Homo sapiens: one gene and its partner. The protein of the gene in region 1 interacts with the protein of each later gene in a biochemical or structural test. Each region holds a gene or a part of one and is shown on either strand. Other genes may lie near its edges. The genes, in order: KCNE4 and KCND2.

Region 1 (7,208 bases):
TCATGAGAGCAGCATGGGGGAAACAGCCCCCATGATTCAATTACCTCCACCTGGTCCCACCTTTGACACGTGAGGATTACAATTCGAGGTGAGATTTGGGTGGGGACACAGAGCCAAACCATATCAGGCTGTATATGTAGGCAGAGAAACTACTGTACTATGGACAACATAGGTATACGGTAAGAGTATTACTGCTTCACTGATAACTTCTAGAACATGCTGAGGTTGGTGCAGCCTCCAGTACTTAAAATAATATGAATTCAGAAAAAGACAACTTGTAGTTCCACGTGTGTATTTATGTGTGAGTATCTAGTTATGTCAGAATTCACATTTTTTTTAAAAAAAAAGTTTTATGAAGACTCAAAAGAAGTTGGAAAAATGTCCATCTTTCACTTCCTACTCTTTCTCAGTTTCTTTTTGTTTTCCATTCAGTGAGACAAAAGGTAGTGGAAAAAGAATGGGTTTTGGAGTTGCATAGATCTGGGGTCAAGTACTGACTGTACTGCTAGTGATTTGACCTGGAGCAACTTTGCCTCTTTGACTCTTTGACTTTCAGTTTCCTTATCTATGAAATGGTTGTAATAATACCTGACCTCACAGGACTTATGTGTACTTGGTATATGATAGACACTAAGCTAGATTTGAACTGCAGTGTATCTTAGACTCATTTAAAATACAAGTTTAAAATGGATTTATCAAAACAGAATAATATCGATGCAAAGATAGACAGATAGATCAAAGGAACAGAATGAAGAGTTAAGAAATAGACCTGCTTATATAAGGTTAATTGATTTTCAACAAAGTTTCCAAGATAATTTTAAATAGGAAAAGGAGTCTTTTCAACAAATGATGCTGGAGCAATTGGACATCCATAAGCAAAACAAAAACAAACAACCCCTCCCCAAAATCCTTGACCTATATCTTACATTTTAGACTAAAATTAACTTGAAATGTATCATAGACCTAAATGTAAGGCTGAAACCATAAAACTTCTAGAAGCAAAACAGGAGAAAATCCTCATGACTGGGTTAAGCAAATATTTCTTTGATAGGATTCAAACAGCACAACCAAAAACATTTAAAATAAATTGGACTTCATCAGAATTAGATATGTTTGCTCCTGAAAAGACACTGTTCAGGAAATGGAAATGCTAGCCGAAATTGATTTATTTCTTTAACATTGCTGTCTCCTAAAACTGAGGCCCGGGGTAGATATAATTAATAATTCTTGTGCAGTCCCATCCTCTCCCGACAGAGTGCACTTTCTAGATGTACCCTCTCTCCCTCATTCTTTATGCCATTATTCAGTGCCATCATTCTCGCAATCCCTGTCATGAGTGAGGGCTGGGAAGAAGATTGAGCTATGCATTTTGAAGTTGGAATTCCCTTCTCTTAAATTCCATTCCTGGGAGTGACAGACAGGGGAAGGAGCAGTGATAAAAAGTCTGGAGTTAAAAGTCTGGAGATGGGCACACACATGACAGGAGGCAACCTGAAGCCCTTGGGAGCAACAGCGTACTCCTAACAATGACAACTAAACACAGGCACTGAGCATGTGCATTTGGCCAGACATGGTGCTTTCTTTGCATCATTTCATTGAACTATTTTATTCTGTTCTGTTCTATTCTATTCTATTCTATTCTATTCTATTCTATTTATTTAGAGATCTCGCTCTGTCACCCAGGCTGGAGTGTAGTGGCATGTTCAGACCTCATTGCAGCCTTGAACTCCTGGTCTCGAGTGATCCTCCCACCCCAGCCTCCCAAGTAGCTGGGACTACAGGCACTCGCCACCAGGCCTAGTTAATTTTTGTATTTTTTTGTAGAGATGGGGTCTCACTGTGTTGCCCACGCTGGTCTCAAACACCTGGGTTCAAGTGATTCATCCACCTCAGCCTCTTCAAGCATTGGGATTACTGAACTAAGACACTGCAGTTGGCCTCGTTTAACTCTAGTAGAAATATCCATGCAGGAAGTATGTGGGAATCGGGGCAGCAGGGACTCCAAGCAGGCACCCCAGAATTTCTTCTGGGCTGTTCCTTCCCTGACTCCTGCAATTAGTCCTGCTTTTCCTTTGGCTCTGACTTGCTTCGTCCTTTGGAATTCATTCTCGATGTTTCCCCACACTCATCTCTTTTCTTGGTTGTATTCCCTTGGGACTGTTGGCTCAGGTTTGGGGATTTATTATGTTTAAAACTTCAGCCTCTGTTTGGCTTCCTGGCACCAGGCTTTGTACTTCCTGCTCCTTGAATCTGGTAACTCCTATCCCCACCTCCTTTCTGCCTACTCAAAGCTTCCAGTCTTTGGTGTTGGACAATCCCTGGATGATGACCAATCTCGTATGTCCTAAGGTATACAATAAAAAATACCAGGGTCAACAATCAACAGGCATCTCTTTCTTGGGCCCATCTTGTTCTAGTGTCCCAGACATTCCAGTGTAGGCTTAGATATAGATGGAAGTGTTCTAGTGTTTATGATGGACACCTGTTGAAAAGACCAAGTCTACCATGGCTGAGGTAGCTATGGAGGGTTTTACGTATTAACACAATGGTGAGGGTATCTTTACTGGTGTGAGCACAGTTCCACTGTATGGATGATCGTGATGCTGGAGTGGTCGATGGTTGGTACCTCCAGTGCCAGCTGGGGATTTATGGATGAACACAGGTGAGTAGTCAAGTGGGAAAAATGGCAGCATTCAGTTCATCTTCCTATTCTTCCTCCAGGTGTCTTCTTAGAATCAGGATCAGGTGCAAACCCAGGGGGGTTCCTGTAGCAGCAGTGAAAATTCCAGTGCCTAAGCTATATATGTTCAAGCAGGTCAGGTGGATGTCGCATGCGTCAGTTTGACTACAGCAGAACCATGAGAGATGTTTCCTTTAGAGTTGGCCCACAAGACAGTCTGGCTGCAATCCACAGGCCACAGACAACTGGAGGGAGTGGATCTCTCCCAGTTTCCTTCCACTTAGCATGAAAGCCTCAGAATAAGCAGCCCAGGGAGCAGAGAGACTGACATTAAAGCCTGCAATTCCTCTTCCAATTTTGATCACAGCAGCCATTTAAACACAGGGTCTACCGAGGTTTAAAAAACTTGAACTGTGCTTAGTTGCACTCTGAAATAGTCCTGCTCCTCCCCTGACCTACGAGAGACAGCAAAGAGACGTGTCAATAGCCTCCGCATGAGGCTTCAGAGGAGCAGCTGTGTATGGCAGGACGGAACAAAACCTGCCCATAGTATCTTTTACGACAACATGTTTCCACTTAATGCAGACCACTGAAAAGAATGTGGGAGCTTTTAAAAAAAAATTATTATAAACATAGGTTTGTGACCTTGATGTGGAAGGCAGCTAGAATCTCTGCTTTTAGAGGGCTAAGCAACACCAGGCAGCCTTCAATCTTAGAAGGGTTAAGCTGAAAGGGTCTCAAAAGGTCACGTGGTTTATATAATCCTACCTGCAGAAGACCCCCCCCCCCGCCAGGCACAACGATTTTACAGACGAGGAATGTGAGGTGCGGAGAGGTTAAGGAAGGATTTATCTTATTTGCATAAGGAGTGGAAGAACTGAAACCGAAGCCCCAGTTCCTTGACTGTAAATCCCGCACTTGCTTCCAACTGTCTTTCATCCAGATTATGGGATTCAGCTGCCTCTGAAAACCTGTAGCCCAATAATGGTTATTCCCCAGGAGCCGCGCGAAGCATGAGCTAATTTTCAGTGAGCGCGGACTTTGGGGTAACGGTTCCAGCACAGCACATCCCTTTCTCCTCTTTTCACTCATCGTCACCGCTACCTGAAAACCCTGGCCGGGTGCTGGGGCTTGAGGAGCAGTTCCCACTTCCCAGTCTTTTTCACTTTTCACAGCTGCAAAGTTCAGGGAGTTGAACTGCAGTGCTTTCAGTTCACTGCTCACTCTGCCACGATCAATCTCTGTTGTAAATTTTCCTCCCAGAGCACGTGACGATGCACTTCTTGACTATATATCCCAACTGCAGCAGCGGAGTTGTCAGAGCGCAGAGCCGGACAGAGCAGAAGAACCCTCTTGGACTGGACGATTTGGGAATTCAAAACTTGGGACAAACTGTCAGCCTTGGTAAGTCAGCAAGGCTACACTTTGCTTTCAGAAACATTTGAAAGAGGGACATTTTTGCCAATTAATAGATGAATTTTTTTCCTTTATTTTCTTCCTGCTTTTCTTTGTTCTAAGGAAACATTGTTTTGAATTTAAAATAGTTTGGTTTTGGAAACACAATGTAAACTTTGTTTCTGCTCAGTTAAAATACGTTTCCCAGTTTTAAAGATACTATTTACTGTATGCTCCTGTCTTACATTGATTTTTTTTTTAATCAAAGTAATACTGCTCACTACAAACAGGACAAATGTGTACACTAAAAAAAAAAAAAAAAGTCCTTCTTACTTTTCCCAGTGAACCTTCCCGGGCTTCTCTCCCGTGCACTCCAAGCCCTCATAGCTCACTCTTGTCAGCTGTTTGGCGAACCCTCTTATGCTATTTCTTTCATGCACTTTTAAGCTTTTTTGGTATTGCAGTTCCACAAACCTCGTGCTCCCCCACCTCCCTGTGCCCAGGACCTGGGGGAGAGTTCTAACCTGCGGCTTTTTCCCCAGCCCCTGCTGTGGAGGCAGCCTCAATGCTGAAAATGGAGCCTCTGAACAGCACGCACCCCGGCACCGCCGCCTCCAGCAGCCCCCTGGAGTCCCGTGCGGCCGGCGGCGGCAGCGGCAATGGCAACGAGTACTTCTACATTCTGGTTGTCATGTCCTTCTACGGCATTTTCTTGATCGGAATCATGCTGGGCTACATGAAATCCAAGAGGCGGGAGAAGAAGTCCAGCCTCCTGCTGCTGTACAAAGACGAGGAGCGGCTCTGGGGGGAGGCCATGAAGCCGCTGCCTGTGGTGTCGGGCCTGAGGTCGGTGCAGGTGCCCCTGATGCTGAACATGCTGCAGGAGAGCGTGGCGCCCGCGCTGTCCTGCACCCTCTGTTCCATGGAAGGGGACAGCGTGAGCTCCGAGTCCTCCTCCCCGGACGTGCACCTCACCATTCAGGAGGAGGGGGCAGACGATGAGCTGGAGGAGACCTCGGAGACGCCCCTCAACGAGAGCAGCGAAGGGTCCTCGGAGAACATCCATCAGAATTCCTAGCACCCCCGGGACCCCTGCCGGTGGCTCCATCAGCCAGCAACCTTAGAGAGAGGAAAGACAGTTTTCAAGTGTCTGGTTTCACTTTCACAGTGCGGCTGCCACTTTGAAGAGACCCTTGGTAAACCCCTGATTCGGGGTGGGGTGGGGGACTAGGCTCAGCCGGAACCAGCACCTCCAAGGAGTCCGGGAGGTGCCTGTGGTTTGCACCCACCACTGAAAAAGCCGCGGAGATGCGCAGCGCGTACACTGACTTTGGGGCCTGGGTGTTGGGGTTCTGATCAGAATTTGGCGGGATGATATGTTTGCCATTTTCTCACTGGATGCCCTGGGTAGCTCCTGCAGGGTCTGCCTGTTCCCAGGGCTGCCGAATGCTTAGGACACGCTGAGAGACTAGTTGTGATTTGCTATTTTGCCTAGAGCTTTGTCCTTCTAGATCTGATTGGCTGTAAGTATCTCTACTGTGTACCTGTGGCATTCCTTCACAGTGGGTTACAAGCTTCTTTTGGATTAGAGGGGGATTTTTGATGGGAGAAAGCTGGAGATCTGAACCCAGCCCATTTGCACACTATAAGAAAAAAAAGTAACTTTTAAACCTGTTAACATTGGCCGGGGTTATAAGAGATGATCTTCTATTTTGACCTTTTGTCTAACTTATGACCTTGAACTCTGACCTGTGACCATGCAGCATCACATGATGGCATGACGTTCTTTGGATCAGAAGAGCTTCCCCAGAATCTAACCTGCACTCCCGATGGTGGTTCAGGAGACTCTTCCTGATCTTTCTAGAAGGGGTAAAGTGGGGTTGAACAAGGCCAAGCCGTTAGCTCTGCTGCTGCTCAGTTTCCCAGCCTAGTTTTCTGAGCTGGGAGAGGACATAATGTGGTATTTCGTCACGTAGCTGAGACCTAGAAGGGCATACTCAGGCGGAGATTGCACAAAGCTGGGCTCCAAGTTCTGTGCTTCCTGATCCCGAGCCCTGACACTCATTTGCTGTGTGGTCCCGGGCATGTCATCAAGAAGCTCGCTGTCTGCATGAGGCTCCCGACGATCTCCATCCCCAGGGGGTTGGGAGGATGTCTTTAGATTTTAGGACTCTGTGATAAATATTCCACAGCCTGGTGTGAGGAAGCTTGGACCAAATGCTTCCCCTTTGGCCGGTTAGTCTGAACAAGGATCTGCTGATTTAAAGGAGCAGTTGGAGATTCAGAACACATATAACTGGGGAATTCAGGGCAAGCTACCAACCCAGCCCTGCTGTAGTTTTCCCAGGACTGAAGGAAAGAGGCAGACACCACATTCTCCTCTGCAAAGTTCTCTGGAGAATGTGTGATGTTAACACTCCCAGCTAAGGGAAAGCAAAGTCTAAAGGAAAACACACAGGAATGCTTCCAATGTCTCCAAGTATTCCTGTGGTCAACAGTTTCGCAGATCCGTTAGGCCCTTAAAGACAAGGAGGAAGTAAAAGGTCAAATTTAAATCTATTTAAAAAAACTTTTAAAAAAATTATTTATTTATTATTATTTTTTATTTTTAAGACAGAATCTCGCTCTGTTGCCCAGGCTGGAGTGCAGTGGTGCAATCTTGGCTCACTGCAACCTCCACCTCCTGGGTTTCAGCGATTCTCCTGCCTCAGCCTCCTGAGTAGCTGGGATTACAGGCGCCTGCCACCACGCCCAGCTAATTTTTTGATTTTTAGTAGAGATGGGGTTTCGCCATTTTGGCCAGGCTGGTCTCAAACTCCTGGCCTTAAATGATCCTCCCACCTCGGCCTCCCAAAGTGCTGGGATTACAGGCATGAGCCACTGCACCCGGCCACTTTTTTTTTTTTTAAAGAAAAATGCTCTGCATGGATTGGAGACACAGCAATAACTACTGTTGCCATGGAAGGGTTAACAGTGTAGGAGCTGGTTTATCAGTCCGCTTTGACATACAGCTAAAGGAAATTTATGTTTGGGGGAAAAAGGCCCTCTGTTCACTTTAAAATTCAGTGTGGACTTATGCCAAAGGGGGCTGTTTAAGTTGAAAGAAGCCAAGTTAAGTTTGGCCTCTTGCCTG
Region 2 (5,883 bases), on another chromosome or scaffold:
ATACCATGTTTCTATAAAATACGATATGCGAAATGATGCCTATTGCTATTTGCTACTGGGCTGGAAGTTAGGAAATAGTGACGGAAAAACCCCAAATGCATACAGAGATCATGAGTACAGCCAGTGATGCCAGTGATGTATTACGAAGATTACAAAAAAGGCCACAAAAGTTCAATGCTAATCCCTTCTGGGTCGAACACAGAGTGACACATTCGGCAGACAATTATATTTTACTTATGTAACGAATAAGTCATATTTTTCTGTACTGGGCATTTTTAGAGGAACATATAAAGAAATGGATAGTGTCTTAGGGGTCTCATTTTCTAATTTAGAAATGTTTTCACTCCCATGTGAAAAGATTTGCTAATATATAACAGACAATCTAACTTGGGGCATCCTATTAAAATAATCTATTTTCCATAACTTCAACCTTTTTAAAAAATAAAGTCAGTGGGAATTTCTAATTTCCCTGTGGGTTTTATCTATATGCATTTTTTAGGTTTTTTTTTTCCTTATCATATACCTTCCAGATTTTATGTTTAAATAAATAAATGATATTTCAAGATAAAGTTAGTCTATAAAGGGACACTAAATCAGCCTACAGATGTCAATCTCTAGGTTTAACTACAGAGATAGTTCCACATAAATGCCAAAAAGAAGTGGTTTTGATGTCAATCTTTATGAAAATGGTTTTATTTAACCATTGTATCAAGTCTAACTATACTTGGGCAGATTTGAGCTTTAAAAATAAAGCTATGTATTTCGTTTTTAAAAATGTGCTTCTCTGTTTCTTCATTTACTTACAACTGTGGAACAGAATCACGAGTTTGTGGACGAACAAGTCTTTGAAGAAAGCTGCATGGAAGTTGCAACTGTTAATCGTCCTTCAAGTCACAGTCCTTCACTGTCTTCACAACAAGGAGTCACCAGCACCTGCTGTTCACGACGACACAAAAAAACTTTTCGCATCCCAAATGCCAATGTATCAGGAAGCCATCAAGGTAGTATACAAGAACTCAGCACGATTCAGATCAGATGTGTGGAGAGAACACCTCTGTCTAACAGGTACCTGAGATTAATCTGTGTTGTCTACACACCTGTGCTGGTTCCCAGGGTGTGTCTTCTGCACTCATGTTGTCACTTACATGGCATCTAAATCCCTAGCTCCTATGGTTCAGGAAGAGACAAAAATGGTAGCGTAACAAGTAGGAAAATGGTTCTGCTTGCATATCCATTAAGGGTTAAAAATAGTGGTTATATCAGTATTAAAAGAGTCGAAAGAAGAAGAGATGATTGAGTGCACACAAATGTGTTTTTCTCTCTTCTGTTCCACAACCTTTTCTTATTTGGGCAAGGACTTTTATACTCAGGAGTCTCTTATATATTCAATAGTCTGAAATGATGGTGGACACTACTAAAAGAGTCAAATGAAATTGAGATCAACATGGCTAAAAATTATTGAACAGCATGTAAAAATATACAAACACACTGTCTGTAACAGTAAAAATGAAAACTTTGCCTACATAAGTCATTTCTATCAATATATAATTTTGATCAGAAAGGTATTTTTGGCCATATCAAACACAAAATCAACATAATACAAAAAATAAGTGAAGTACTAAAATTGTTTGCCTCTGGTTAGTTTATGAACAAATTAAGTAAAACTTCCATATTGATATATTTCCTTTGCTTTTCCTTATTCACTGTTTTTACCACAAATGTGTAAAAATAAAAAGTTGTACATTTAAACAATATATGTCATTAAAAATCAGTTTCTGCCAAAATAATTTTATTCTGTTTTCAAATTGAACAGCATATATTGTTAGAGTGAGAGTCTGTAAATTCAGTCCTCTTCTTTGTTGGCATTCAGAAGTCTTTGTTGAAATCTGGATGAGATTCTGAATTCAGGTGATGTTGATTTACATAAATTGGATGTCTCTGGGACTAGAAAATTAAAATTAGGAGCCATAAGACTTCTATCTTCAAGATATTTTAGCTTTGCAGTTTTATATCCTTTATAAAGTGAAGTCGACAATGGAAAATTATCTAGCAAGAAAATCTTAGGACATAAACATCTTAATTATGTTTTCCATGAAAATAAAATAATCAGTTTCAAGCTTCTGTGTATATCCTTCTCTCTCATTTCCCTTTTATCCCCTTCCCCACATAGAGTATACAATTCATCCAATAATACCATTTGGGAGCTTGAAGTGTTAGATAGTAATAGATAATTTTTTTATTTCTGTAATATGTGATCATCATTAAGTTCAGAGGTTTGAGGGCATTATATATCCCAAAAAGACATGAAAATAAAAATATTCTGTGGTCAAAGGAATTAAGAAATCAATGTGATATGGCTCTTTCATAGTGGTTTCTCAAACCTCTCAGAGGTCTGTCTTAAATAAAACTTCTTTGCTCAGCCCAGGCTGTCCAAATCTTACTTGAAGCTCTTTCTTTCTTACATTTTTTTATAATACATTTAGTTTGATAAATACTTGATGGAACCAAGTCAAACTGTCTTTTAGAAATTTATTTAATGTTAATTACTATGTTCATCTTTAACATAGATTAAGATTTGGTGTTTCATATTTTTAATTATAATAACTTTCCTTAGACAATTAAAATATTTTTATAAGCATTACAACACATATTCTTCAGTTGTATGAAAAACATTTTAAGTAAACAACTTACTTTCCTAAATATTTTTTTTTCTATCAGCCGATCCAGTTTAAATGCCAAAATGGAAGAGTGTGTTAAACTAAACTGTGAACAACCTTATGTGACTACAGCAATAATAAGCATCCCAACACCTCCAGTAACCACACCAGAAGGAGACGATAGGCCAGAATCCCCTGAGTACTCAGGAGGAAATATTGTCAGAGTTTCTGCTTTGTAAGACAATTGGAATAAGGTCTAAGAGAATTCGAGCCCTGGCTGTGAAAAGAATCTCAACATAGAAGAAAGAAGAAACAATAAATATTCTGCAGATTAATGCAGCAAAGAAAGAAGGTTGGTAGTGAAACACAAAGCTTCCAATCTTAAGGATGTGAATAAAACCACCAAATGGCATTTCTAGACAGTTTGACCTGTTATACAGAGTAATATTCTGTGGCCCTTTGACTTTGTGAATGAGCACAATGAAATGCCGCCTACTGATGCTTCTTATGATCAGAACTCTTTTTTAATAAAATAAATAACATAAATCGTTGAACATAATGTTCCAGTTGAATGCAAAACAAAAAAAATATGGAAAACATTTTGATAAAATTTTTTCCTGTTAAAACCATGAACATTGGCTATGATGAAGATTATTACATATGAAAAAAAAACTCACACAACATATTTGTATTGACTGAAGGAAACCATCATAATGCATGCTAGAATTCTTTGAAGCAGTGATCTCAGTTTCCTTATGTTGTCTTCAGAATAGGCATGATAAACTATAATTGTAGAAAGGGGTAATTTCTGTGCACTTACAACAAGCTGAGTGTTCATGTTCCATGGTGGGCTGTGCAAATAAACTCCTTTTAGACCTGCAGTATTTCTCATGGGGATGCTCATTAGTAAATCTAAAGTGTTCAGATAGTTCAGTATTCATTATCGTTTAACTTTGCACCTAGATACTGTTACAACTGCAATAATTTGTTGTACAACTGTTGTATCAGGAATCAGGATTTTTTTGTTGTTGTACTTTCCAGATCCTTATAGATACGGTAAGAGCCACATTCGTAGAAAAACTTCTGGTGTGGCCAGGTTTTAGGTAACTTTTTAATCCAAAACTATTGTGCCATAAATGTTTTTCAGTAATATTTTTTGGTCCACTGTATTCCTGTGACACAGTGCATTATCTGTTCTTGTATTTCTATAGCACCTCTCTATTGGGTTTATCATCATCAACAAGACTACTGTTTACTGTAGTTCAAGTGACTTTCCTACTTTTGTATTTCCAAAAAAAATTATCTTGTAAGTAGCTTGTCATCAATCCCCTTGTCGAAAACTAGAAAAAAAGGAGTTGACCCATATAAATTATCTCTAACGTCTTTGTTGTTTATGGAAAAGCCCAGATACTGGATATATCACTATGTATTTTATGAACAGAATTGACTGGGACTAATATCACAGGATCAATCATCTCAGAATCTTACTTGATGCATTATTTATTTTGCTTTAGATCTTGAATACATTTTGAGAATAACTAATGTGGATTGAAATGTAGAGATACACTGGAGTGCTTTATTTAGCAATATTTGATGAAAGCATGCTTTCTACGCCATTCAGGAAGGCAGCACAAATTTATCTCAGAAAGGTTCCTGTGTATTGCAAGGTACAATTTTCTCCAATAAATCAGGAGAACAGGAGTTTGATGATGCAAAGTTGATCTCTGTACATTTAAGTGAAAAGTCTTTATAACTTTTCACCCTTAAAATATTTCAGCAGACATGTCTGCACATGACAGTGTAAAAAAGTTTAATGTCAAATGCAAAGTTTTTATTCATTCCAAGCCACCACTGTAAGGAATAAAGCTTAGCTTCTGTACATGGAAAGAGCTAATAATTATCCCTCTGTCAGAGATGAGATTTTTAAATGCTTATGATATTTAATCATAAAAAGGGATTAATCCAACCATTTTCTAGTAAAGCCAGAAATTCTTGCTTCCCATTTCTAGAATAGTTTCTAGAACAGTGCTATGCACATATTAGATCTTAATAAACATTTGCTGAGTGAAAGTAAGATAAACTCAACTATCTCTTGGGAAGAACTGGCTTCATTCCTAGTACATCTTTTAAAAAGTTACTAATTTTCCAGCAGTACAAATATTAACAATTATATTAACACCTGCCTCATGTCAGTTTATGCTTCTAGAGCAATGTCTAGTGAAACTTATCTGATGGCATTTATTGAAAACCTTCTAAAAAGTAGACTAAGGAAACCATAATCAGAATTACTATGTCTTTTGATTCCCAATGAGAAGTTCTATTTTCATGTTCTTAATATTACATACAAGAAAATGCAGTTAGGTTATTTCAATTGACAATTCTGCCTCCTCTTTTGATTTATCACTTACCCAAAATTATTAATTTTATTAGGCTTTTGGAAAAGAAAAAAAACTTTTTGATGTTTTAGGTGATTTAAAAATATACCGTGTTGGTGGTGAATGACTATTGATGACTGTGTTAAGTGCATCTGTATTGTAAGTGAAATGTAATTATTTCTGTGTACCATATGGAGTAACTAAGGTCATTGTTTTTGACAATTTTGTTTGAAATTCATATATCTTATTTCAAAGGATAGCATAATATCTGCATTATGCTGGAAAAAAATAGACCTTTGGAGAATACTTAAATAAAACATGTGCATGCTTGAACAGGACAAAATGTTGACTGTTGCCCTATTTTCTTAGATTTCATTCCTTTCCCAAAATTAGGATATGCCACACTCATAATACACATGTTGGAGGACCTTGTGAGACATACAACTCAAAGGACACAGCAATTGAAAGTAATGCTTAAATCTCATCTGAATGGGTGGAGACAGTAGCTTTTGCTAGTAATGGGAATTAAGGCAGGGACTTTAACAGAAAAGATAGTATCAATTAAGGAAAGCCAGTCCCTGAACCTTATATACTTCTTAAACACCACTACTTGCATTAAGCAGAGAAGCTCAGGGGTAATGGTTTTGGTCAGAACTTAAATAAATTCTTAATCAAAGGCTTTATTCTACCTAGGAAAGCGGGGTGATTTATTTGCCTAGCCATTTGTGTGCATGTATGTGTATATGTAGATATAAATTTGTTCATACACATATACATAGATTTTCATTCATTTTTAATATGCAACCACTAATGGTTTCTCTTAATATCTTGAAAGGGCTAAAAAGCAAGAA

Evidence for each region.
Region 2: the proteins of KCNE4 (region 1) and KCND2 form a complex in vitro, tested with the Homo sapiens proteins (one study listed by BioGRID).

What each region holds. Positions count from the first base shown.
Region 1 is NC_000002.12:223,048,191-223,055,398, forward strand, and holds the start of KCNE4 (potassium voltage-gated channel subfamily E member 4), read left to right. Parts: upstream 1-3,999; 5' UTR 4,000-4,084; intron 4,085-4,617; 5' UTR 4,618-4,640; coding exon 4,641-5,153; 3' UTR 5,154-7,208. UniProt on the Homo sapiens protein: Ancillary protein that functions as a regulatory subunit of the voltage-gated potassium (Kv) channel complex composed of pore-forming and potassium-conducting alpha subunits and of regulatory beta subunits.
Region 2 is NC_000007.14:120,744,963-120,750,845, forward strand, and holds the end of KCND2 (A-type voltage-gated potassium channel KCND2), read left to right. Parts: intron 1-817; coding exon 818-1,065; intron 1,066-2,718; coding exon 2,719-2,896; 3' UTR 2,897-5,375; downstream 5,376-5,883. UniProt on the Homo sapiens protein: Voltage-gated potassium channel that mediates transmembrane potassium transport in excitable membranes, primarily in the brain. Mediates the major part of the dendritic A-type current I(SA) in brain neurons.